Linked DNA regions of Homo sapiens: regions 1, 2, 3 and 5 are each linked to region 4. The links come from fine-mapping of genetic effects on gene expression. A gene starts in region 4. Each other region holds a variant in brackets. All regions are shown on one strand. Distances are between the middles of the regions.

Evidence for each region.
Region 1: its variant is fine-mapped to the expression of BET1L in whole blood (INTERVAL, PIP above 0.99).
Region 2: its variant is fine-mapped to the expression of BET1L in whole blood (TOPMed, PIP above 0.99).
Region 3: its variant is fine-mapped to the expression of BET1L in esophagus mucosa (GTEx, PIP 0.97).
Region 5: its variant is fine-mapped to the expression of BET1L in whole blood (TOPMed, PIP above 0.99).

Annotation. Positions count from the first base shown.
Region 1 is chr11:226,134-231,234 of GRCh38, reverse strand. SIRT3 (sirtuin 3) reads left to right here. Exons shown (of 7, transcript NM_012239.6): 4 at 683-783. Among named protein-coding and RNA genes, the nearest start is that of SIRT3, 7.7 kb to the left of the region's middle. The variant G/T (reference allele first, on the strand shown) is at 2,721.
Region 2 is chr11:183,789-188,889 of GRCh38, reverse strand. It overlaps a transcript of SCGB1C1 not described here. Among named protein-coding and RNA genes, the nearest start is that of SCGB1C1, 6.7 kb to the left of the region's middle. The variant G/A (reference allele first, on the strand shown) is at 2,810.
Region 3 is chr11:130,370-135,470 of GRCh38, reverse strand. LINC01001 (long intergenic non-protein coding RNA 1001) reads left to right here. Exons shown (of 7, transcript NR_146389.1): 3 at 524-581; 4 at 675-907; 5 at 1,693-1,883; 6 at 3,947-4,004; 7 at 4,098-5,101. Among named protein-coding and RNA genes, the nearest start is that of LINC01001, 6.2 kb to the left of the region's middle. The variant G/C (reference allele first, on the strand shown) is at 2,072.
Region 4 is chr11:205,059-210,159 of GRCh38, reverse strand. It overlaps BET1L (Bet1 golgi vesicular membrane trafficking protein like), which reads left to right and starts at 2,761. Exons shown (of 4, transcript NM_001098787.2): 1 at 2,761-2,857; 2 at 4,117-4,208; 3 at 4,493-4,549; 4 at 4,691-5,101. The coding sequence starts at 2,839. The coding sequence ends at 4,858. RIC8A (RIC8 guanine nucleotide exchange factor A) reads right to left here and starts at 2,452. Exons shown (of 10, transcript NM_001286134.2): 1 at 1,222-2,452; 2 at 842-889; 3 at 160-753. The coding sequence starts at 1,305. MIR6743 (microRNA 6743) reads right to left here and starts at 824; the gene lies at 754-824. RefSeq lists enhancers at 584-1,171, 1,246-1,865, 1,841-2,010, 1,866-2,487, 3,034-3,535 and 1 more and silencers at 1,070-1,179, 1,250-1,539, 1,540-1,738, 2,800-2,919, 3,030-3,089.
Region 5 is chr11:236,004-241,104 of GRCh38, reverse strand. SIRT3 (sirtuin 3) reads left to right here and starts at 4,763. Exons shown (of 7, transcript NM_012239.6): 1 at 4,763-5,057. The coding sequence starts at 4,777. PSMD13 (proteasome 26S subunit, non-ATPase 13) reads right to left here and starts at 4,129. Exons shown (of 13, transcript NM_002817.4): 1 at 3,961-4,129; 2 at 2,029-2,107. The coding sequence starts at 4,055. RefSeq lists enhancers at 3,878-4,117, 4,278-4,467 and a silencer at 4,618-4,697. The variant A/G (reference allele first, on the strand shown) is at 2,337.

The sequences.
Region 1 (5,101 bases), 21 kb before region 4:
ACTCCTGGCCTCAAGTGATCCTCCTGCCTTGGCCTTCCAAAGCACTGGGATTACAGGCATGAGCCACTGCACCCAGCCTGGTATTAGGTGTAATTTTTTTTTTTTTTTTTGAGACAGAATCTCGCTCTCTTACCCAAACTGGAGTGCGGTGGCACGACCTCAGCTCACTGCAACTTCCACCTCCCGGGTTCAAGCGATTCTCCTGTCTCAGCCTCCCCGAGTAGCTGGCACTACAGGTGCCTGCCACCACATCTGGCTAATTTTTGTATTTTTAGTAGAGGTACGGTTTCACCATGATGGCCAGGCCGGTCTTGAACTCCTAGCCTCAAATGATCTGCCCACCTCGGCCTCCCAAAGTGCTGGGATTACAGGTGTGGGCCACTGTGCCCGGCTGGATATAATTTTATTTGAGCTTTTATCAAATGGTTTTTCGTACTGAGTTTTGACAGGCTTTGTTTTAACCGTGATTTGGCTCCAGCTAGGTGCCCCTTTGCTCCCCTGCCTTATTCTGGTTGATGGCGCATGTAGGTGATACGGGCATGAAAACCAGGCTTGAGGACATCACAACCCCAAGGGGCTGTGCCTCCTTCCAGGAGTCCTGCCAAGCCCAGAAGTTGTGCTCTTGGCCTTGCGTGCTCATCTCGGAGGCGGCAGCAACACTTCGCTTTGGCTTGAATTTCAGTGTCGGGCATCCCTGCCTCAAAGCTGGTTGAAGCTCATGGAACCTTTGCCTCTGCCACCTGCACAGTCTGCCAAAGACCCTTCCCAGGGGAGGACATTCGGGTGAGTTATCCTGCTGTTGGTTGTCCTTCTGCAGTTTGCTGTTGGGGTGATCTGGAAAAGTGGTATTTTATAAGCATTGTCTCGAAAGGACAGTTGAACAATAATAGTGTGAAACATTTTATTTGTAAATTAGAAAATCAATACATGCTTGTAAAAAAATTTAAGACAATATAGAAATATGTAGGGAAAATGAATCTCCCTTCAGCCAATTCCAGCTGCCCACTTTTTTTTTTTTTTTTTGAGATTGAGTCTCACTCTGTCGCCCAGGCTGGAGTGCAGTGGGCGATCTCGGCTCACTGCAACCTCCGTCTCCCGGATTCAAGGAATTCTTCTGCCTCAGCCTCCTAAGTAGCTGGGATTACAGGCGTGAGCCACCACGCCCGGCAATCAGATGGCCTTTTGTGCCGAGCTTATTTCCTGAAAATGTTTCTCGCTCCTTCGCCTTGTAGCTTGTGTTAGTATTTCATCCTGTTTCATGGCTAAATGTTCCACTGATGTATGCACCACAGTTGGTTTGTTTGTACATGGATGGGTGTTTGGGTTGTCCCACCTTTCTGCTCTTGTGTATAGTTCTGCTGTGGAGCATATGCAAGTATTCGTTTGAGAGTCCTTGTTTTTTATTCTTTTGAGTATGATACCTACAAGTATTGCTGGGTAACTCCACGTTTAGCTATATTTATTTATTTATTTTTTGAGACACAGTCTTACACTGTCACCCAGGCTGGAGTGCAATGGCGCGATTTCGGCTCAATACAACCTCTGCCTCCCGGGTTCAAGCGATTCTCCTGCCTCAGCCTCCTGAGAAGCTGGGATTACAGGTGCCTGCCACCATGCCCAGCTAATGTTTTTTGTATTTCTAGTAGAGATGGGGTTTCACCATGTTGGCCAGGCTGCTCTTGCATTCCTGACCTCAGGTGGTTCACCCGCCTCGGCCTCCCAAAGTGCTAAGATTACAGGCGTGAGCCACCATGCCCTGCCCATGTTTAACTTTTTTGTTTGTTTGTTTTGAGACGGAGTCTAGCTCTTATCACCAGGCTGGAGTGCAGTGGCGCAATCTCGGCTCACTGTACCATCCGCCTCCTGGGTTCAAGCGATTCTCCTGCCTCAGCTTCCTGAGTAGCTGGGACTACAGGCACACACCACCACGCCCGGCTAATTTTTGTATTTAGTAGAGTAGTTTCACCATGTTGGCCAGGATGTCTCGATCTCTTGACCTCGTGATCCGCCTGCCTCTTTCTCCCAAAGTGTGGGATTACAGGCGAGAGCCACTGCGCCCGGCCCGTTTTAACTTTTTGAGGAACGAATATACTGTTATCTGCAGAAGCTGGACCATTTTACATTCCACCAACAGTGGGCAAGGGTTTCATCTTTTCCACATCCCAACACTTACTTTCCATTTTTTAATTACAGCTATCCCAGTGGGTGGGAGGTGGTAACCCACTGTAGCACTGATTGGCATTTTCCTAATGATTCATGATATCAAACATCTTTCCATGTGCTTTTTGGCCATTTGTATATCTTTGGAGATTGAAGTCCTTTGCGCATTGTTTAATTGTGTTGTCTTTTTTATTGTTAAGAGAGTCCTTTATATATTCTGGAAGCTAGATCCTTATCAGAGACATGATTTGCAAATATTTTCTGTCATTCTGTAGGTTGTCTTTTTTACTTTGTTGATGTCTTTTGATGCATAGAAGTTTTGATTTTGATGAAATCTAGTTTGTCTATTTATTTTCTCACTCTTTTGGAATCATATCTGAGAAATGGTATTGTTTTACTCCTGTTTTCTTATAAGAGTTTTATAGTTTAAAGCTTTTACATTTAGTTCTTTGATCCATTTTGAGTTAATTTTTGTGTGCGCTGTAAGGTAGGGATCCAGCTTCATTTTCTTTTATGTGGATATGTAATTGTTCCAGCACCATTTGTTTAAAAAAACTGTG[G/T]TCTTGGCATTGTTGTTGAAAATCAGTTGGCCATAGGTGTATGGGTTATTTCTAGAGTCTCAATTCTATTCCATTGTTATCTGTATATCCTTGTGCCTGCACTATAATGTTTTGGTTACTGTAGCTTTGTAGTAAGTTTTGAAATTAGGAAGTGTGAGTCCAGCACATAGTAGAAACTTGATATATACGTATTATTGTTTTGGTCAACTCATTCATTGAATGACCAATTTATTCAACAAATAGTTTAGTCTCCTCAGTGCCAGGCCCTTTGCTGGGTTCTGTGGATGTGAATAGAAATTAAAATAAGGTGGAGTCATCCAACAGTTACAACTGGGTGCCATACGAATTTTACTATAAATATGTACTGGACACTACACTGACTCAGCTGTAGGAACAGAGTAGGCTGGGAAGCACCTTTGAGATGAGGCCGTCTGGATGTAAGAGTCTGTTTCTGGCAGCAGAGACCTGGAGTGTGGGAGGCCTGCTTGCTCTGTTAGGGTTTGAACTGTATCCTGACGATCATGGGAGGCATTGGAGGATTTTTAGGCAGGAAAATGATGTGAAGGGATTTGCATTTAAAAGAGATTATTTGGGACTGGGCACAGTGGCTCACGCCTGTAATTCCAGCACTTTGGGAGGCCTAGACAGGCGGGTCACCTGAGGTGGGAAGCTTGAGAGCAGCCTGCCAAAATGGTGAAATCCCATCTCTACTAAAAATACAAAAATTAGCCAGGTGTGGTGGTGCACCTGTAATCCCAGCTACTCAGGAGGCTGAGGCAGAAGAATTGCTTGAACCTGGGAGGGGAGGTTGCTGTGAGCTGAGATCGCACCACTGCACTCCAGCCTGGGTGACAGAGTGAGACTCCATCTCAAAACAAAATAAATAAATAAATAAGAGAATAAAATAGATAATTTGGGCAACAGGTTGATGTTAATTCCCCACCTTTGTTCTTCTCCTTCAGTACTGTGTTGGCTGGTCTGAATCTTTTGGCTTTTCATATAAATTTCTGAAACTGTTGCTATCTGTTCTCTGCCTGTTTTATTTTTGTTGTTGTTGTTTGGATTTTTTGTTTTTTTGAGATAGAGTCTTGCTCTGTTGCCCAGGCTGGAGTGCAGTGGTATGATCTCAGCTCATTGCAACCTCCCCCTCTCAGGTTCAAGCGATTCTCTTGCCTCATCCTCCTGAGTAGCTGGGATTGCAGGCATGCGCCACCATGCCCAGCTAATTTTTGTATTTTTAGTAGAGATGGGGTTTCACTATGTTGGTGAGGCTGGTGTCGAACTCCTGACCTCATGATCCACCCGCCTCGGCCTCCCAAAGTGCTGGGATGACAGGCATGAGCCACCGTGTCTGGCCTCTCTGCCTGTTTTTTAAGACTTTTGTCTTTGGAGTTTTGCGGTTTCTCCACTGTGGTTTTCCATATGAATTTTCTTTTATTTCTTCTGCTTAAAATTTGTAGGCCAGTTGGTCATGGTGGCTCACGCCCGTAATCCCAGTACTTTGGGAGGCCGGGTGGGTGGATCGCCTGAGGTCAGGAGTTTGAGACCAGCCTGACCAACATGGAGAAACCCCATATCTACTAAAAATACAAAATTAGCCGGGCGTGATGGTGCATGCCTATAATCTCAGATACTCGGGAGGCTGAGGCAGGCGAATTGCTTGAACCAGGGAGGCGGAGGTTGCGGTGAGCTGAGATTAGGCCATTGCACTCCAGCCTGGGAAACAAGAGCGAAACTCCATCTCAAAAAAAAAAAAATAATAATAATAATTGTAGGCCTTCCTTAAGAAAAATAAAATAAAATTCTAGGCTGGGCGCGGTGGCTCCTGCCTGTAATCCCAGTACTTTGGGAAGCTGAGGCGGGTGGATCACCTGAGTTAGGAGTTTGAGACCAGCCTGGCCAACATGGTGAAACCCCGTCTCTACTAAAAATACAAAGATGAGCCATTTGTGGTGGCACCCATCTGTAATCCCAGCTACTCGGGAGGCTGAGGCAGGAGAATTGCTGGAACCCAGGAGGCAGAAGTTGTAGTGAACCGAGATCATGCCACTGCACTCCAGCCTGGGTGACAGAGCGAGATGCCATCTCAAAAAAATAAAATATAAAATAAAATTCTAAGCCCTGCAACCAACTGAATGGAGCCCTCCCCTTGGTCAAGGGAACCCCAGAGAAACCTTGGAAGCTTGAGTTCCTGGCCGTAGCAGGAGAGGAGGTCAGACGCGCCTCACTGTACCCCTCCCTCCCCAGCCACCATTAGGCTTCTTCACTAAGGGCTAAACAGAAACCAGCCCTTTTCAAAGACTCTACACTGCTAATGTGGATTACTGGTTTATCTTCCCAGATACAGATTAAAGACAAGATGAGATTAATGGTTCCTTCAC
Region 2 (5,101 bases), 21 kb after region 4:
GTCCTGAGATTTATTTTCCTTTCATGGTATCAGAACAGAGAAAAGGTAATGCGTTGAGCCATGAGCTTATGACAAGATGGCTAGGAAGGAATTTTTCAGCTCCATTTTTATGTCATGGGACCACCATCATATGTATGCAATGCACGAGTGTAAAATCACATTTAGTTAAGTCAGCTTACACTAAGCTATGGACCCAGATGGTCCTGGGGCCTTTTTCCACTGGGAGATCTTTAAGGACCTTTCTTAGCTTTTCTATGCTAATTGGTATATTCATAGTTGCCTTATTTCAGGGCCCATTTTGTTAATGTGTATTTTTACTAGGAAATCACCCATTTTTTCTAGGTTTCCAGTTTGATGCAATTATTTGACTTTTAATTTCTCCTCTGTTTTTAGTTTTGTACATAATTTTCCTATCTACTTTTGCACTCTTTTTTCCATCAACAATATTTTTAAAATATACTTTTTAGCTTTTTTTGAAGAATTGTTATGTTTGACAATTTTTTATGACCTAATCATGACCGTAAATGATTTTTAATTAATTTCAGCTTAATGTCTTTTGTAGGGCACAACTGTTAAAATACAGAATTACAACAAATGTGGGTTTGCAGATCTTAATTGGCTTTTTTTTGTGGTTCTAGAATCAGGCAGCAGTCCAGACCAAAAATGGTTCAGAATGATCTGCCACACAACATGTGCGGGTTATATTTATAGCCAGAGGAAAAAAGTGACATACAGAAAACAGAAGTGAGGTATAGAGGTGGCTGGATTGGTTACAGACCTGGTTACAGCCCGGATTTGCCTTCTTGGAACTTGTTTTGAACAGCTGGCTGCCGGCCATTGACTGACACTCGGCTGATGTGATTGGCTGAACCGCCGCTATTTGTTACCATGATACATTCCCAAGTCAGATTTTCAGTTTGTTTCTATACTAAATTAGGTTGCGATTCTTCTTGTTCTTCTTCTTTTTTCTTTTTTGAGGCGGAGTCTCGCTCTGTCGCCCAGGCTGGAGTGCAGTGGCGCGATCTCAGCTCACAGCAAGCTCCGCCTCCCAGGTTCACGCCATTCTCCTGTCCCGGCCTCCCGAGTAGCTGGGACTGCAGGCTGCCGCCACCAAGCCCGGCTAATTTTTTTGTATTTTTTTTTTTTAGTAGAGACTGGGTTTCACCTTGTAAGCCATGATGGTCTCGATTTCCTGACCTCATGAGCCACCCGTCTCGGCCTCCCAAAGTGCTGGGATTACAGGCGTGAGCCACGGCGCCCGGCCGCGACTCTTTACAAGGACTCCTCGGGAGGCTTCCAGAGCCCAAATGTTGTTTGATGTAAGAATTCCTCCCTTTTGGTCAGCCTCTCAATTTTGAGATATTGATCAAAACTTTGGGCATTGGTGTCACTCTTTGTTGTCGTTGTAAATTGAGTTATTAGGACTTATTTGCTTTCAGTGTGGCATTTTCAAGTTTTATTTGGTCTCAGTGCCCTCTGGGCAATAGCAGAACACTGTGTTGTGTAAGGCGGAAATAGAGCAATAGAAAATAACAACTGATTTGTTAATATCAGATTACTTCAAGTTACTTGTTTTGGTAAGAATTAAAGCAGAGGGGACTTCTTTATGCTGACTCAGGTAGACTGGAATCTCTTCAGGGAAAAAGGGAGCTCTTTTGGGATCTATCTACTTCCTTAGAGTTTCAGCTTCGTTGTGTGTCATTCAGCGTGAGTGTCTCCATTCTGATTTTGCCTGCTCAGTGTGGCCTAGTGCGGGAGTGGTGACCGAAACAATGACCTCCCGTAGTTTGTTCCACAGTTCTCCCCTTTTGGTTGGGTTCCTGCCTAGGTGAGGGTGTGACTAAAACCTTAGGGCATTAGCGGTATTCTCAGTAACTATCATTTTAGGTTTCCGGTCTTAGGGCATTAGCACTATTCTCAGTAACTATCATTTTAGGGTTCCGGTCTTAGGGCATTAGCACTATTCTCAGTGACTATCATTTTAGGGTTCCGGTCTTAGGACATTAGCGGTATTCTCAGTAACTATCATTTTAGGGTTCCGGTCTTAGGGCATTAGCGGTATTCTCAGTAACTATCATTTTAGGGTTCCGGTCTTAGGGCATTAGCGGTATTCTCAGTAACTATCATTTTAGGGTTCCGGTCTTAGGGCATTAGCACTATTCTCAGTAACTATCATTTTAGGGTTCCGGTCTTAGGGCATTAGCGGTATTCTCAGTAACTATCATTTTAGGGTTCCGGTCTTAGGGCATTAGCGGTATTCTCAGTAACTATCATTTTAGGGTTCCAGTCTTAGGGCATTAGCAGTATTCTCAGTGACTATCATTTTAGGGTTCCGGTCTTAGGGCATTAGCACTATTCTCAGTAACTATCATTTTAGGGTTCTGGTCTTAGGGCATTAGCAGTATTCTCAGTGACTATCATTTTAGGTTTCCGGTCTTACGGCATTAGCGGTATTCTCAGTAACTATCATTTTAGGGTTCCGGTGTTAGGGCATTAGCACTATTCTCAGTAACTATCATTTTAGGGTTCCGGTCTTAGGGCATTAGCAGTATTCTCAGTAACTACCATTTTAGGGTTCCGGTCTTAGGGCATTAGCACTATTCTCAGTAACTATCATTTTAGGGTTCCGGTCTTAGGGCATTAGCAGTATTCTCAGTAACTATCATTTTAGGTTTCCGGTCTCAACACATCATTTAAGAAGTCAGTAAAGCTTTCTTCTACTGTGACAGCATATTTAATACTGAGAAAGAAAAGAAAATTTTTATCTTGCGAATGTGAGCTTCCTCTAAATTATCAGGTCCAGAGAGGC[G/A]TGGGAATGAGGCAGCAGTCACGTCCCATTTCCCTCTTAGCTAAGTAATCATATCTTGAAGCTGCTTGCTATGTAGACTAGACTGACTGTCATCAGCTATAGATTAACCTAAGAGTGTCTTTGAATATTTTTTCCAGTGGCAAATATTTGCTTCTGTTGTATCGTAGCTGAAAGGAATGCTGGGAAACAAAATAAAGACAAGCATTCATTAGAATAAGTGATCCAGTCACAATGAATCAATTTGAACTTTTTTTTTTTTCACAAAGTCATACTTTGAAAACTTCCAGCCGTAAATTGAAATAGTCTCCAAAATGTGAATTTTTTTCCCTGGTTCTAAGATGACCAGCTTTCTTAGAGAGTGAACTACACCATAAGAAAAATGATATGACCATGTTTACACATATATGTTATCTTAACATAAAACATGTAAAAGGGGCATTTCTTTGAAAGTATATATTAGTCTGTATAATTTACTTTGCAGTATCATGAATGCTCTTATTTTTAAAAGTAGGAGTAGTTACTGTCAATTACTAATTTTTAGTACAAATAATTTAGCAGATATCTGAAAAAATTACAATTTTTAAATAGAGGTTTTATTTTAAATTAGTTTTAGATTCATACAGAAATTGGGAAGAAAATGCAGATTTCCCATGTAGACGCAACCTAGTTTCCCCTCTTTTTAACATATCAACATGTATCAGATAGGTTTAACATCTTTTTTTTTTTTTTTTTCCAGACCAGGTTTTTTTTTTTTTCAACCAGGCTGGAGTGCAGTGGCGTGATCTCGGCTCACTGCAACCTCCGCCTCCCAGGTTCAAGCGATTCTCCTGCCTCAGCCTCCTGAGTAGCTGGTATTACAGGCGCCTGCCATCATGCCCGGCTAATTTTTGTATTTTTAGTAGAGATGAGGTTTCACCACGTTGGCCAGGCTGGTCTCGAACTCCTGATCTCAGGTGATCTGCCCGCCTCAGCCTCCCAAAGTGCTGGGATTACAGGCATGAGCCACCACTCCTGACCAACATCTTACATCATTTCTTGTCATACTTAATGACTGGATATTACTATATTATTAAATAAGCTCACATCTTATTTGGTTTCCCTTAGTTCTGCCTTTTTCTCTCCCAGGATCCTATCTAGGATCCCATAGGACATTTAGTCATCATGTCAGGCTCTTCTTGGCTGTGACAGTCTCTCAGACTTTACTTCTGAGGACCTGGAACAGTGTTAGGAGGATTGGTCAGGTATTGTGTAGAATGTCCTCCATTGTGGTTTACTTGGGGTTTTTCTCATAATCAGCCTGGGTTTAGGGGTTTGGGGGAAGCAGAGCAGATGTGTAGTGTGTCCACAAAAAGAGTCAAAGACTGTAAAATATTTGAAGAGATGTATTCTGAGCCAAATATGAGTGACCATGGCCCTTGACACAGCCCTCAGGAGACCCTGAGAACATGTGCCCAAAGTCGTTGGGGTGCAGGTTGGTTCTATACATTTTAGGGAGATAGGAGACATCAATCAAGTGTATTTAAGATATATATTGGTTCGGTCCAGAAAGGTGGGACAACCCAATGGATTAGGGTTGGGGGGTGGGGCTTCCAGGTTATAGGTACATTTAAAATTTTTCTGATTGGCAGTTTGTTGAAAGACTTACTATCAATAGAAAGGAGTGTCTGGGTTATGATAAGGGGTTATGGAGGCCAAGGTTTTATCATGGAGATGAAGCTTCCAGGTAGCAGGCTTCAGAGAGAATAGATTGTAAATGTTTCTTATCAGATTTAAGGTTGTGTTGATGTTAAATGCTGATTGGCTTTTCCTGAATTCCAAAAGGGAGGAGGGCATAATGAGGCATGTCTGACCACCTCTTTCCCATCATAGCCTGAACCAGTCTTCCAGGTTAACTTTGGTGTCCCCTGGTGGAGAGGTGGTTGTGGGAAAGATCTTTGAATTTTATTTTTGGTTTGCAAGTGCTAGTCTAGTCACTTCATGCTCTCAAGATGTGTTATCACCATTAATGTTAACTTTTATCACTTGGTTGAGGCAGTGTTTTCAGGTTTTTCACTGTGAAGTTACTTTTTTCCCATGTCTATATTGTATGTATGCTTTTGGAGGAAGTCATCATGCAGAGCTCATACTTAAAGGAGTGGGGAGTTAGCCCCACCTCCTTGATGGCTGTCTATATCAGGTATTTGGAATTCTTCTGTGTAAGAGATTTCTATTCAGTCCATTTGCATATCTGTTTAATCATTTATTTATACCAGTATGGGTCCACAGATAGTTACTTTAATCTTTTGGTTGTTA
Region 3 (5,101 bases), 75 kb after region 4:
AGACCCACACAGATGGGATTTGGGCATAGGTTTGGTTTCCCAGGGGGCAGTGCTGAGCTCTTTGCCAGTGGGAAATGGGATGCTGGTGATTTCCAGTAGGTGACCTCACAGTGACTCAAGCTACCACTTACTGTTGATTGTGACGAAATGCCAGCTGAGGCACATGCCTTGGGAGCTAAGTGGTTGCTGCCCTTGACCACTGTGAAGACTGGTGTGGGAAGGGTCGTTTTGGATGCACTTGAGCAGGGGTCCCCAACCCCTGAGCCATGGAGCCGCAAGGAGCCACACAGCAGGAGGTGAGTGGTGTCGAGTGAGGGAGTGAGGGAAGCTTCGTCTGTATTTACAGCCACTCCCCTTTGCTCACATTCCCGCCTGAGCTCCACCTTCTCAGATGAGCAGCAGCATTAGATGCTCATAGGAGAACGCACCCTGTTGTGAACCGTGCATGTGAGGGATCTAGGTTGCGCTGTCCTTATGAGAGTCTAATACCTATTGATCTGTCACTTTCTCCCATCACGCTCAGGTGGGAACATCCAGTTGCAGGAAAACAAGCTTAACACGCCCACTGATTCTACATTATGGTGAGTTCTATAATTATTTTATTATATATCACAGTGTAATAATGGAAATAAAGTGCCTAATAAATGCAAATGTGCTTACATCTTTTGGCCCAGCTCCTACCTCCCGGCAGCCTCTCCAGGCCCAGAACTTTCTCCAGTCAGCCTCTACAGACCAAGCTCATGACTCACAATGGCCTATTTAGGCCCATACCCTACGTCACGGCAGCCTCCGCAGATGAGGCTACTGCCTCACAACAGCCTCCACAGGCACAGCTCCATCGTTACAATGGCCTCTTTAGACCCAGCTCCTGCCTCCCAGCCTTCTCTCCAGGCCCTGAACATTCTCAGTAAGTTCAGGTAGCTGGGACTGTAGGTATACATGATGATACTTGGCTAATTTTTAAATTGTTTTGTAGACACGGGGTCTCACTTTGTTGGCCAGGCTGGTGTCAAACTAATGGCCTCAAGTGACCCTTCCACCCCTGCCTCCCATCCTCGAGGCATGTGCCACCACAAGGAGCACTTGTTCAATTTTCTAAAAAAAAAATTTCTAAAGTAAGGCTGTGGGATGATGGCAGGAAGATAAAAGAAAAACAGAAGAATAAGTTAAAATGACTTATTCACACATATTCTTTTGACAGCAAGAAGAACTTTTAGTATGTACATTCCTTACAAACAAACAAAAGGCAGATAAACAATGTTGTATAGGAACTTCAACACACACTGTACAATATTCCCACTTTGCTGACATAAGTTATGGAAATTTCATGGTTTACTTGAGTGTCCCTACCAGTATTTTGCTTCTCTGATGATTTTTATCAACTTCCTCATCTGTTAACTTCTCTCCAAGGTATGTCATGTCACGACATACTGCCGCTGCACGAACATGGCCAGTGTCTTCCTATTCAACATGTAGAATGCTTTCCTAATTTCTCTTTTTACTCTCTGTCTTTGTGTTCTGCATTTTCCTTACTTTTATTGTCAGAAACTCCAGAAAGTCAATCGTACTAATTTATCACGATTTGCTTTATTAATTTATACTTTGCTTATATGGAATTTTGCCCAGCAGACCTCATCACAGTTTCTAACCTGTTTTATTTTTTATTTTTTATTTTTTTTTGTTCTGAGACAGGGTCTCCCTCTGTTGTCCAAGGCTGGAGTGTAGTAGTGCTATCGCAGCTGACTGCAGCCTCAACCTTCCAGGCTGAAGCGATCCTCCCACCTCAACCTCCCACGTGGCTGAGACTACAGGTGCTTGCCACTATGCCCAACTAATATTTGGAATTTTCGTATACGTGGATTCCAGAGGGGTGACAGCGAAACGTGAGTAAGCATGGATTTTGGTATATGCAGAGATGGGGGGCTGGAACTAATTCTGTATACTGAGGGACGACGACTGTATATGTTTTTACAATTACGCTGTAGGATACATACTGTTGCATAGCCTTGAAAATAATAATTTTTAATTGAGTGGAATAAGAATAATATTGATAAAAGTAGCAGCTGGCCAG[G/C]TGTGGTGGCTCACACTGGTAATCGCAACACTTTGGGAGGCTGAGGCAGGAGGATGGCTCGAGGCCAAGAGTTTGCGATAGGCCTTGGAAACAAAGGGGGAGTCACCATCCCTACAGAAAAATACATGAATTAGCCTAGTGTGGTGGCATGTTCCTGTAGTCCCAGCTACTTGGGAGGCTGAGGTGGGAGGATCACTTGAGCCCAGGGAGGCTGAGACTGCAGTGAGTCATGATCAGGCCTCTGCACTCCAGCCTGGGTGACAGAGTGAGACCCTGTCTCAAAACAACAAAAAAGTAGCAGCCAACATCAACTGACCTTTTGTACCAGGTGCCTATTGATACCATAGTTTAATTTCTTATAACTGTTTCTTATTTCACTTACCAACTCTGTCTTCAGTTACTCCCAGATTTTTACTGTGTGTGTACAGATGACCTTTTGTTTAGACTGAATTGTCTCCCCAGAAGTAAGATTACTGTGAGTCATGGTGAATGGACATTCTCCTTACCCTTGATGTAAATTGACAGGGTTTTGGGTGCCTCCCAGCTATAATCTTAGCACTTTGGGAGGCTAAGAGAGGAGGATTGCTTGAGGCCAAGAGTTGGAGGAGGCAGTATGGCAGTATGGTGAGACCCTGTCTCCATTATTTTAAAAAATTGACAGGCTTTACCCGGGAAGGCTTATACACAATTTAACCACCTCTCATAGTATAAGAAAGTGCCCATTTCACTGCACCTTTGCCAGCACAGGGTATTATAATTTAGTAAGTCATTTTTTGTTTGATTATTTTAAATAGACAAAAGACCTCATGTTACTTTACTTGTCACATTTCAACATCTTTCCTCAGCTTATTAGCTCTATTTCTTTTCTGTCTGTAAATGGTTGTTGTTGTTTTGTTCTTTGAGACAGGGTCTTGCTCTGTCACCAGGCTGGACTGTAGTGGCATAATCATGCCTCACTGCAGCCTTGACCTCCCAGGCTCAAACTTCCGCATTCCGAGTAGCTGGGACTGCAAGTGTGCACTACCACCACCAGCTAACTTTTTTCTTCTTTTGGATAGAGACAGGGTCTCACTCTGTTGTCCAGACCGGTCTCTAGCTCCTGGCCTTAAGCAATCCTCCTGCATTAGCTTCTCAAATTGCTGGAATTTCAGGCCTGAGCCACCATGCCTGGCCTGGGCTAGTCCTATATTCTCTAGAGTTCTCTTTACTTTGTGCTAGCCAATCTCTCATTATGCTGTTCACCTGTTATAATGAATAATTCTCTGTATTAAATTTTACCACTTTAAACTTTTGAGTGGTTTATGCTTCCTGATTGGACTCTGACTAATATGTTAGGAAGGGTCCCAGGAGATACACCCACACAGATGGGATTTGGGCATAGGTTTGGTTTCCCAGGGGGCAGCGCTGAGCTCTTTGCCAGTGGGAAATGGGATGCTGGTGATTTCCAGTAGGTGACCTCACAGTGACTCAAGCTACCACTTACTGTTGATTGTGACGAAATGCCAGCTGAGGCACATGCCTTGGGAGCTAAGTGGTTGCTGCCCTTGACCACTGTGAAGACTGGTGTGGGAAGGGTCGCTTTGGATGCACTTGAGCAGGGGTCCCCAACCCCTGAGCCATGGAGCCGCAAGGAGCCACACAGCAGGAGGTGAGCGGTGTCGAGTGAGGGAGTGAGGGAAGCTTCGTCTGTATTTACAGCCACTCCCCTTTGCTCACATTCCCGCCTGAGCTCCACCTTCTCAGATGAGCAGCAGCGTTAGATTCTCATAGGAGAACGCACCCTGTTGTGAACCGTGCATGTGAGGGATCAAGGTTGCGCCGTCCTTATGAGAATCTAATACCTATTGATCTGTTACTTTCTCCCATCACGCTCAGGTGGGACCATCCAGTTGCAGGAAAACAAGCTTAACACGCCCACTGATTCTACATTATGGTGAGTTCTATGATTATTTTATTATATATTACAGTGTAATAATGGAAATAAAGTGCCTAATAAATGCAAATGTGCTTACATCTTTTGGCCCAGCTCCTACCTCCCGGCAGCCTCTCCAGGCCCAGAACTTTCTCCAGTCAGCCTCTACAGACCAAGATCATGACTCACAATGGCCTATTTAGGCCCATACCCTACGTCACGGCAGCCTCCACAGATGAGGCTACTGCCTCACAACAGCCTCCACAGGCACAGCTCCATCGTTACAATGGCCTCTTTAGACCCAGCTCCTGCCTCCCAGCCTTCTCTCCAGGCCCTGAACTTTCTCAAGTCGACCTCACCAGGCCCAGGTCATGCTTCTTTGCAGCCTCTCCAGGCCCAGCTCCTGCATCTTGGTGGCCCCTCCAGGCCCAGCCTCTGCCTCCCGTCAGCCTCTACAGTCCCAACGTCTGCCTCACAGCAGATTCTTCACGCCCAGCATCTACCTCACTGTGGACCCCCCAAGCCAAGCTCCCAACCTTTCAGCAGCTTCTACACACCCAGCTCCTGCCACCCAGTGGCCTCTTTAGGCCAAGCTCATGCTTCACAAGGGCCTTTCCAGGCCCAACTTTTGTCTCATGGCAACCTTCCCTGGCCAGATTCCTGCCTGTCTCCCAGCAGCCTAGACAGGCCCAGGTCTTGCCTCACACTGGCCTCTCTACATCCAGCTTATGCCTCACGGTGGCCTCTCCACGCCCAACTCCTGTCCCAGGACGTCATCTCCGGGCCCAAAACTTACTCAAGTCAGACTCTCTAGTCCCAACTACTGCCTCCTGGTGGCCTATGAAGGCCCAAAATCTCCTCAAGTTGACCTGTCCAGGCCCAGCTCCTGCCTCCTGTCAGCGTCTACAGGCCCAACCTCTGCCTCATGGGGGCTTCTCCAGACCCACCTCTTCCTCTTGGCTGGGTCTACAGGCACAACTGCTGCCTCACAACAGCCTTTTTTGGCCCAGTTCCTGTCCAGCTCATGGCGGCCAATGTAGGCCCAAAACTTCCTCAAGTCAAACTCTCCAGGCCCACCTTCTGCTTCCCGGTGGCATCAACAGGCCCAGCTTTGACTT
Region 4 (5,101 bases):
CCCAGAACTGGCATCTCCTTGGCCTTGTCCCAACAGGCTGGGAGGTCCTGTCCTCTCCATGTCTGACACCCAGAAACCTGAAGGTACCCAGTAGGAAGCAGGTCCAGGAAATGTTGGAGCTGAGTTGAGACCCATCCATGGGTTAAGGTCAGTGCTCACCTCGTCCACCTCCCCCTTGATGGAGTCCAGGGTGATGTTGAAGAGCACTTTGAGGATCTCCATGGCCCGCTCAGTCTCTTGGGAAGGAAGGAGCGTGGGTGGGGGGTTCCCTTCAGGAGTCACCCCCAGCGTCAGCTCCAGTGTGTCAGTTAGCAGGCGCACTCCTTTCAGCTCCTGAAACAGCTGCTGGCGCACATCGGTGCGGAGTGCCGTTAGCAGGAAGAGGAGCCGCAAGTCAAAGAACTGGACATCGTGGGGGAAGCTCCTCTCACGGTACAGCCCCACACGCTCTGTGAGCTTCACCACTAGGCGGGCCTCTGCTGCCAGCATCTGTGCCACAGGGCTGCTGAGCACGAGGTTGCACAGGCACTTGAGGGACTCCAGTACAACATCCATGTCTGCGGACTCTGGGACGGACCCCTCAGAGACAGAGATGTCAGCATAGCAGGCTAGTGCCTGCAGGCTCTGGCGGCTGGTGAACGGGTCCAGGCAGTTGCGGTCCCGGGACAGGATTCGGACACTCTGCAGCCAGATGACACGGTGGGAGGGTGGCAAGCCCTGTTCCAGGACGGAGACCAGCAGCTCCGCCAGTCTCTGTGGGCAGGGAGAAGAGCGGCTCCACCAGGCCCTTCTTCCTGGGGCCACCCGTCCCTGCCCCTTTACCCCTTGGGCCAGCACCCACCTTCCGGTCCTCCTGTTGGGCATCATCAAACGTGAAGCTCTGGGAGTGCTGCAGAGAGAACTAGTGAATTCAAATCCACAGAGGGGTAGGATCCGCGTCCGCTGATGCGGGCGGCCTATTGGCCTCTAACTCAGGCAGCAGCCACTGCTCAGAACGGATGGCAGGGTCGGCACTCGCCCCCATCCCTACACGCCTGCCACCCAACGGGTGCACCCCCACTCTCCCCGCAACACTGCATCCCAGACCTGCCCCCCGCACCCCGCCGCGTCCCCTACGCTTGCTGACACAGCCTCTGCCTCACCCACGCCCTCCCTGCTACCCGCGCACGACCCTGCCCCACCCCCTCCGTGCCCGCCCCCCGGCCTCAGGCGGCCGCTTACCTCCTGGTTGTATGACCGCAGAGCTTCCATAATCACATCCTCCTCACCCGTCTCCACGGCTTCTGCAACCGCCCGGGGCTCCATGGCGCGCCGGGGAAGGCGGGACGGGCCCTTCCTCAGCCGTTCCGGGCCGCAGTTCGCCGGCCCCGCCCTGGCCCAGAAAGCCCCGCGCCAGCGCGCGGGGGAGGCCGGGACGGGGCGCGGCGTCTGGTGGCGCTTTAACGGGGCGCAGCGTCTGGTGGCGCTTTAAGGGGGCGCGGCCTGAGGCAGAACTGGCGGCTCGGAGGTTTTAAGACCCGAGTCGAGGGGCTGAGTCGCTCTGAACCGAACTGACCCCTCTCCTTGTGACCCGCGCTTCTTGGGCCAGAAGTTCCAACAGGAAACGATCTCAGCCCCCACCGTGCCCTGCCACACACACAGTGACGCCCCTCGAGCTCCACAGAACCGATGGGATGTAGAGGGGAAAGCCGAAGTGGAAAGGAATTTTCAGTCCTGGGCCATTGGGTTCGTTAGGCGTTTGCTGGGGAATGCAGGCGAACGGGATTCCCAGGTCCCTGCCTTTGTGGAGCTTATGTTCCAGAGGGGAAGGGGGACAAGGAAAAACAAAAGGACACGAGGCGGTCACAGGGCTGTGCTTCAAAAGAAGCAAAAGGCGACTGCTGGGCTGCAACGGGCTGTGAGGAAGTGCTGTTTTTGCTGACACCGGACGGTGGGAAGTGAGCCGGGAAAAGACTGGAGGAGCCACTCCAGGCAGAAGGAGCAGCACTTGCAAAGGTGGAGGGGCCGAGAGAAAGGGGAGCAACCCAGTCTGGCCTGGACTCAGTTCCCTCTTGAAAAGCAAAGATCCTGCGTGTCCGTTTCAGTGGCCGTCATGAGGATTCAGTGACGCACAGGAAGCGCGATCCACTCGCTCTTCTAACAAGTGCCCGGGAGCAAAGGCGTCTACGGCCCCCAGTCCCCGCGCCGCCTCCCAGTCTCTCTCCCGGCTTCACTTTCCTGTAGTGCGTTCTGTACGGCTGTATTCGACGCGGCGCGCACTCGCAGGCACGAGCGAGGCGCCGATCTCCACTTGACAGAGGAGGCACCCCTGCCCCCACCACACCCAGTGCTCCTCGCGGGCTTCTGCCCGAGGGGTCTGCTCCTTCCTCATGACCCGCCTGTGAATCCTTCCTAACCGTTAGGACCTAACCCACAGAAGCGTCTTTCCACCACCATCGTCTAGGCACTGAGCAAGCAAACGGCCCCGCCCCGCCCCACGTTCACAGGAACACCAAACGTCACATCCGCGGTGCTGCTGTAATCCCAGCACCTTGGGAGCCCGGCAGGCGGGGGCTGCAGTGAGCTGAGATCGCGCCACTGTCTGCGCGACAGTGCTGAAAATAAGCCACAGATATGCCCATCGCTTCCGCGCCCGGCAGTTCCCCACCCTCGGCCCTAAGCCGGAAGTCAGCGAGCCCGAAGCGGAAGGGGCTGGGCTATCTAGGGGCGTGGTCGGTGCGGAGGCGGGGCCATCGCTAGCTGGGGGCGGGGCCGGAAGCTCTTTCCCCGCGACTGCGCCACGTCTGAGGCGGCTGTGGCCGCGTCGGTGTCCGCGTCGAGGAGCCGGGGCAGGGCACGATGGCGGACTGGGCTCGGGGTGAGCGCGGGAGAGCGGAGCCGTTGGGGGCAGGGCCGGGCCGAAACCGACGCCGCTGCCTGTAGAGCCGCGTGCGCCTGCCTCTGGCCCAGCTGGGGTGACCTCGGCCGAGAGGACCCTGTCAGGGGGGCGGATTCGGATCCTTCCGGGTCCGAGCAGGGCCGGGTTTCGGCCGGCACTGCCGTTAGGACCGAAGGCGCGCGTGGCGGCCCAGCAGCTCCAGCGAGGGGTCGCGCAGCAGCGGGGTCTCCCCACTCCCCGCCGCCCCCTGTGAGATCGTTCTGCATGGGTTCGGGGTGAGCGGGAGTCGGCATTCGACAGGTCCCGAGGCCAGGCCCTAGGAGTAGAGGCTGTGCTCCGCTGGTGTCCAAGCAGGACTCTTACTTTGGCCTCGGTGGCCCCATTTCCCCTCCTGGAGCCCGTGTTCTTGTCTGCAAAGTGGGATATTGATGCCTGTCTCTGTGAGGTGTTATGATGATTAAAGGAATTTATAAATATGAAGTGGCTGGAAGGACGCTGGCATCCCTTCCTGACACTGAAGCTAGGGAGGAGGTGGTTCTCACGCACCTGATGTGACAGAACTTCCTTATCCCCTGGCCCAGCCTGTCACAGGCCAGGCCTCTGCGAGCACTCTGCCCTGGGTGTTGCAGGAAGCCCCATGCGGGATGCAGACCAAGGATCCCGCTCCTGGTCGACCTCAGCTCCCGTCTCGGGGAAATTGGGAACTTTGCTCAGCCATTTTCTGTGCGGTAAAGGGCCTTCCCAATGTTCTGTCCTGGTTCCTTGCCACCTCTTCAGGACCTAGCTCAAAGGTCGTCTCTGCAGGAGCCTTTCTGCTGCCTTGCTGGGTACTTTTCCCAAGTCTTTTCTATGCTCTTAGCAGAGTTTACTCTTTTTCTATAAGAATGGGCTCCACATACACAGATGGTGACCTCCCTGGATGCAAGTGTCACATCATACTAGCACCCCAGGGCTGGGTCCAGTTTTTGCTACACAGTCTCAGAAGGTGCTGGTTGGACCGAACCCATTGTGGGTGCTTGCCCATCCCCACCTTGATGTGTACACAGGACATGTGTTCACATGACAGGCCCTTACACACATCGTCCTTTATGCAGCCTGTCTCATGTGCAAGATTCACCTGCTGGAACCTTGGTTAGGGCCCCCTAGATTTCTGACTCACCCAGATGTGGTTGGAGTGAGAGGGGTCAGGGGCCGTGCTCACCGATGGATGCAACCCTTCAGCCCCTCTCTTTTCTCAGCTCAGAGCCCGGGCGCTGTGGAAGAGATTCTAGACCGGGAGAACAAGCGAATGGCTGACAGCCTGGCCTCCAAAGTCACCAGGCTCAAATCGGTCAGTGGTGGTCTGTCCTCTTACCTCCACCTGGTGCCTTTGGGGAATGGGGATCAGAGGGAAGGCAGAGGGCCCAGAGGAGTTTCAGGCAGTTTTCCATCCTCATCCAATTCGTGGCTGTGCTCACCTGCATGAGGCCCCAGCTGACACCTGGACCTTTCTGTCTGCTGCAGCCCCACTGTGTCTGGCAGAGTTGTTGGCAGGGTTTATCTGGTCTGGGGAGGGTGAGTGCTGTATTATGTGTCTGCTCTGGCCCAACCCTGCCCTCTCTGTCTGCTGAACAGCTCGCCCTGGACATCGATAGGGATGCAGAGGATCAGAACCGGTACCTGGATGGCATGGTAAGGGCCCACGGTGTGCGTGTATCAGTGCCCTGCCCTAGCACTACCTGCTGCAGAGCCTGCAGTGTCTCCTTCAGCACTGGTGCGGGTGGGTGGTCAAATCACCACTTCTGTGTGATCTTGCTGGGATTCCTCCCTTAGGACTCGGATTTCACAAGCATGACCAGCCTGCTTACAGGGAGCGTGAAGCGCTTTTCCACAATGGCAAGGTCCGGACAAGACAACCGGAAGCTTCTATGTGGCATGGCCGTGGGTCTAATTGTGGCCTTCTTCATCCTCTCCTACTTCTTGTCCAGGGCAAGGACGTGAGCCAGTGGGAGCTGGTGTCTGTGGGTGCCAAGGGCAGCCAGGGTCTTCCCTGCCTGGTGTTTTGGGCTCCAGAGGACTTACCTACAAAATACTCCTTTGCAATGATAATTGTGGGTCAGGAATCTTCTTCCTGTGTGGCAGGAGGCTGCGGCTGCCTGTGACCTGATGAGCTCATGTTGGCTGGTCCCATGTGTGAAAGGGACTCTCTCGGGGAAACCAAGGCCCAGCCCCTCCCCCCTCCCC
Region 5 (5,101 bases), 31 kb before region 4:
ATCCCAGCACTTTGGGAGGCCAAGGCGGGTGGATCGCCTGAGGTTAGGAGTTTGAGACCAGCCTGGTCAACATGATGAAACCCTGTCTCTACTAAAAATACAAAAATTATCCAGGCGTGGTGGCGGGTGCCTGTAATCCCAGCTACTCTGGAGGCTGTGGCAGGAGAATCACTGGAACCCGGGAGGAGGAGGATGTAGTGAGCTGAGACTGTGCCATTGCACTCCAGCCTGGGTGATAAGAATGAAACTCCGTCTCAAAAAATAATAATAATAAATAAATAAAATGGCATTTTTATTACAAAAGACTATTTCAAAGATATCTTCCTTATTAGAAGGAAATGTTTGAACTTTCCTGACATGTATTAATCTAAAAAATTACCTTAAAAAAGAAGCCCACTAAGTCCAGAAAGTCAAAATTACTTCTGGTGACTATAAATTCAAAAATACTATCCATTTTACACTTATGCTAGCTGGATCCCAACAAATTTTAAAGGTTTATTCTGTCTATGGGAAAAGTAAACTCAGATCTGCCAACCTAAATAAACATCACCTTACCATGAGGTTGAGGAAATATTTTGTCATGTGTAGAAAAGTGATTTAAAGATAAGAAACCAAAGGACAGAGATAAACAATTATGAATCATCTATCGTGATGATTTAGAACCTTAGGGAACAAGTATTAAGACAGGTCTCAGGCCAGGCACAGTGGCTCCTGCCTATAATCCCAGCACTCTGGGAGGCCAAGGCAGGCAGATCACCTGAGGTCAGGAGTCTGAGACCAGCCTGGCCAACACTGGTGAAACCCCATCTCTACTAAGAAATACAAAAATCAGCTGGCTGTGGTGGTGGGCACCTGTAATCCCAGCTACTTGGGACGCTGAGGCAGAAGAATCGCTTGAACTCGGGAGGTGGAAGTTGCAGTGAGCCAAGATCGCACCATTGCACTCCAGCCCGGGCAACAAGAGCGAAACTCCGTCAAAAAAAAAAAAAAAAAAAAAAAAAAAGCAGGTCTCATTTATCATTTTCCCACATAATCCAGAAGACTGAATGTTCAGCAAAATCTCCAGGCTTACAGATGATTGTAAGTTCCTCTGAATAGTAAAATGTCAAATTGATGGCTATAAACCACAAGAAAATCTTACAAGCCCAGGTGGTGGGGTAGCAAGGTGGTAAGCTCTATTGCGAGCATATAAAAGTAATGTATTCAGGAGAAATGACTCAAAATGTAATTATAAGCTATCAGTTGCAATGCTGGTATGAATCTCTGATTCATTCAGAATCAGAGAAAGCCATCATAGAGTAAGATGTCAGGAAAAACTTCAAAGAGGAGGCTACCAGTGAGCAAATTCGTGGGGATGTGTCAGGGGATCTGGGGAAGGCTGGGAAAGAAGGTGCGTATTTGTCTACTGCTGAAAAAATTCTAAAAGTCCTCTATTACAGAGGCAGCATGACACTATACAGGACTCTCCCTCCAATCCACCTACCCTCAACCGAAGTACAAAAGGTGTTTTATTTTCCACACTACCCAGGACAGAAGTGTCTGGGCAAGCAAGCAGTGCGGCTTAAAGAAGGGGAGTGATGGAAGTTATCTAAGATTCCCACAGATAGTAATCTTCCTCATACCTTACTCCACCCTCTAACTGGGTTTGAACTTTGTTTCTAAAACTAGAGTACTAAAAAGAAGCCTATGAACTAAGATACTTAGGCATGTTGTAAGATAATACTTTATGCTAGAATTTCAAAAAAAGCCAGAATGTCAGTGTTTGAATCCTCTTCTGCCACTTATCAGCAGTGATCTATGGTAAGTTACTTAAAGTCTTATGTTTGCTTCTACATCAAAAAAGTGAGATAGTAGTATCTACTGACCAGCGTTGTCATGAAGGATATGTGAAGCGCTCAGACCAGTACCTGACGTAAAGTGACTGCTGAATATTGGAGCTTATTATTATTATTAGCATAAAGCCTATCTTATTTTCAAAAGTCCTTGAGCACATTCATATAATCTAATCTGGTATAGCAAATTATTTACCTTAATGAGACCATCTCCTTGGGCAAAGCACGGATCCTGCACAAAATCAAGCACCTGAAGTGTCAGCTGATGCCACAACCTGAAAAACATACAGCCCTTAAGACCTCTAACCTAATATCCAGTCACAGACACCTCCAGCCTTGATGATTCTATCAAGTCACAAATACAGGTTGGGTATCTCTAATCCAAAACTCCAAAACTCCAAAATTCAAAATGCTCCAAAATCCAAAACTTTTTGAGCACCAACATAGGGCTCAAAGGAAATGACCACTGGAGCATCTCAGATTTCAGATTTTTGATTTATGGAT[A/G]CTGAACGGGTAAGTATATATCGCAAATATTTCAAAATTTGAAAAAATACTAAATCCAAAAAAACTTTTGCCCCAATGCATTTCTTTCTTTCTTTTTTGAGACAGAGTCTGACTCTGTTGCCCAGGCTGTAGTGCAGTGGCGCCATCTCGGCTCACTGCAACCTCTGCCTCCCAGGATCAAGTGATTCTCCTGCCTCAGCCTCCCGAGTAGCAGGGATTACAGGCATGAGCCACTGCGCCCGGCCGCCCCAATGCATTTCTGATAAGGGATACTAAATCCATACTAACCAGTCTCTACGGTGTAGCAGAAAGAATGCTAAAGCAGATGTGATAAACCTGAGTTCTTTTCCTGGCTCTGCTATTGAATGGCTATGTCACTTTGAGATCACTTAACTTCTCTAAGACTCAGTTTTCCCAGGTATGAAATGGAGAACATTAATCTAGATTAACTCAAAGGGTTATTGTGAGGTTTCACTGGAAACGAGAACTTTGGAATCATACATATCTAACTTGAGATGCTGGCTCTTCTACCTATTAGCTGAGTATCTCAGGGAAGGCAATTAAAATGAGCTTCAGTTTCCTCCTCTGTGAAAAGGATGAATAAAGGATTAAATAAGCTAATATTTAAAACCTCAGGGACAGTGACATAGCGCTTCATCCAAAACCCAAAGGCTAATATTTAATAACGCAGATAAAATGCTTTGAAAATTACCAAGTGCTATCCAACACAAACCATTATTTGCCAAACATTAATTTGCTCTCAAAAACTGCTAATAGCAGAAGGCTGCTGAATGCTAAACATCATCAAAACATGTATGGAACATCTATGTGAAAGGTATTATATTAAATGCTAGGGTTAACAGGGAGGTTACTACAGGAGATGTATTTTCTATGGAATAGCTCCAGCCCAATGCCAGCAATTTATTCTACTCATATTAAAAGGAGGTTAGTGCTTAGCAAGAATTTAATTGCTCTGCAATTCATCCTGTTTCTAAACAAACCTAAACTTTAAGATCTTTCTAGGGGCAGAAAGCCCATGAGAAATACAATGGAAGGTAAAGACAATGGGACGGCGGAAGTGGTTGCACCCCGTGCAACCAGCTGCAGAATGAATAGGGAAAACAGCAAAGCTGTACTAGCCTCTGGTTTATCAACTCCAGACCATGAGAAAGATAACTGTAGATACAGTTACACTATGACAAGGCTAAGCACGAATCACCAACATGTTTCCCAAAGTGGGTGGTGGCCCTGAAAGTGTGTTTGCTTGTTAGATGGAATCAAGAGCTAAAATCAAAGGCTACTCCTGAACCGTTTTAGTAAGACCCGAGGTAGGAGTTCAGAAGCCTCAGTCTCAGTCCCCCGTTAAGGAAGCAGTGAATCTCAGACCGAAACATCCTGGCTACAGCTCTTGGCCCTCGTGGTCTGTCATCCCTCTTATTCCTCGACCCTGCCACTCAAGGTTCCTCAGCAAACCTTGCCGGCACAGCCGGTCGCTACACGTCCCCGTTTCCCCCCAACTTGGGTCTGGGCGCCCTCAGCCCATCAAGGGTCCGCTCCTCCGCCCGCCTGCCCCCTCCGTCTCCCTCTATCGCCGGGGCCCAGGGCCCGTCTGCTCGGCGCTCACTTCTTCGTGTAGAGCTCCTCCAGACGGTGCCACACAGCGGGCTGCCCGGGCCCGGAGTTCTGGCTCTGCTGTAGGAAGCCCGGTACGTCCTTCATGACAGCAGGAAGACCCCCGGCACAGAAGAACAACCGGGATGTCAGCACCGCGGGGATGGCTGCCGGAAATGCTCACTCACTTCCGGCGCCGAGCGGCGCGGGGCAGGCTGGGAGCGCCGTAGCAGGCCGGGGGCGGGCCCCGCTGGTTGCTCGGTTACAGCGCGTCTCTGCGCTCCGGACAAAACTCTCCGGCGTTTGCAGCCCACTTCCCGCGCACTTGGCTGTGCCATTGAGGCGTCAAAGAGTGTGGGCGCCTGTGGTCGAACCCGCTACGGACTAGCTTTGTGGTGTCAGCCTTTGTGACCCGGAATTGCTCCTGTCAAATGAGGATCTTCCCAGTAGTGTTTTGCGAGGATTAGGTGTAAATATAATGCCTGACCATAGTAAAAGCGCTCAGAAAGTATTAACTATCACCGCCATCCGGGTTGAAAAAGGTGTGAGCGCAGGGTACAGAAATGCTGGCTCCAGGTTTGACCTCCGGGGCGAGAGATGAGACACCAGACTAGGGAACTTCCTCTACTCGCCTCTACGTCTACCTGGGCGCGCCGGAGGCGTCGGCAAGGAGGCGGGGGCGGGGCGCGGAGGCGGGACCGGGGCGCCGGGGGCGGGGGCGGTAGGCGGAGGCGGGGCTGGGGCGCCGGGGGCGGGGGTGGGAGGCGGAGGCGGGGCCGGGGCGCCGGGGGCGGGGCGAGTCCGGAGGACTCCTTGGACTGCGCGGAACATGGCGTTCTGGGGTTGGCGCGCCGCGGCAGCCCTCCGGCTGTGGGGCCGGGTAGTTGAACGGGTCGAGGCCGGGGGAGGCGTGGGGCCGTTTCAGGCCTGCGGCTGTCGGCTGGTGCTTGGCGGCAGGGACGATGTGAGTGCGGGGCTGAGAGGCAGCCATGGGGCCCGCGGTGAGCCCTTGGACCCGGCGCGCCCCTTGCAGAGGCCTCCCAGACCCGAGGTGCCCAGGGCATTCCGGAGGCAGCCGAGGGCAGCAGCTCCCAGTTTCTTCTTTTCGAGGTATTTTGGGCAAGGACAAGCACTTCTTGCGTGTTCGTTGTCGA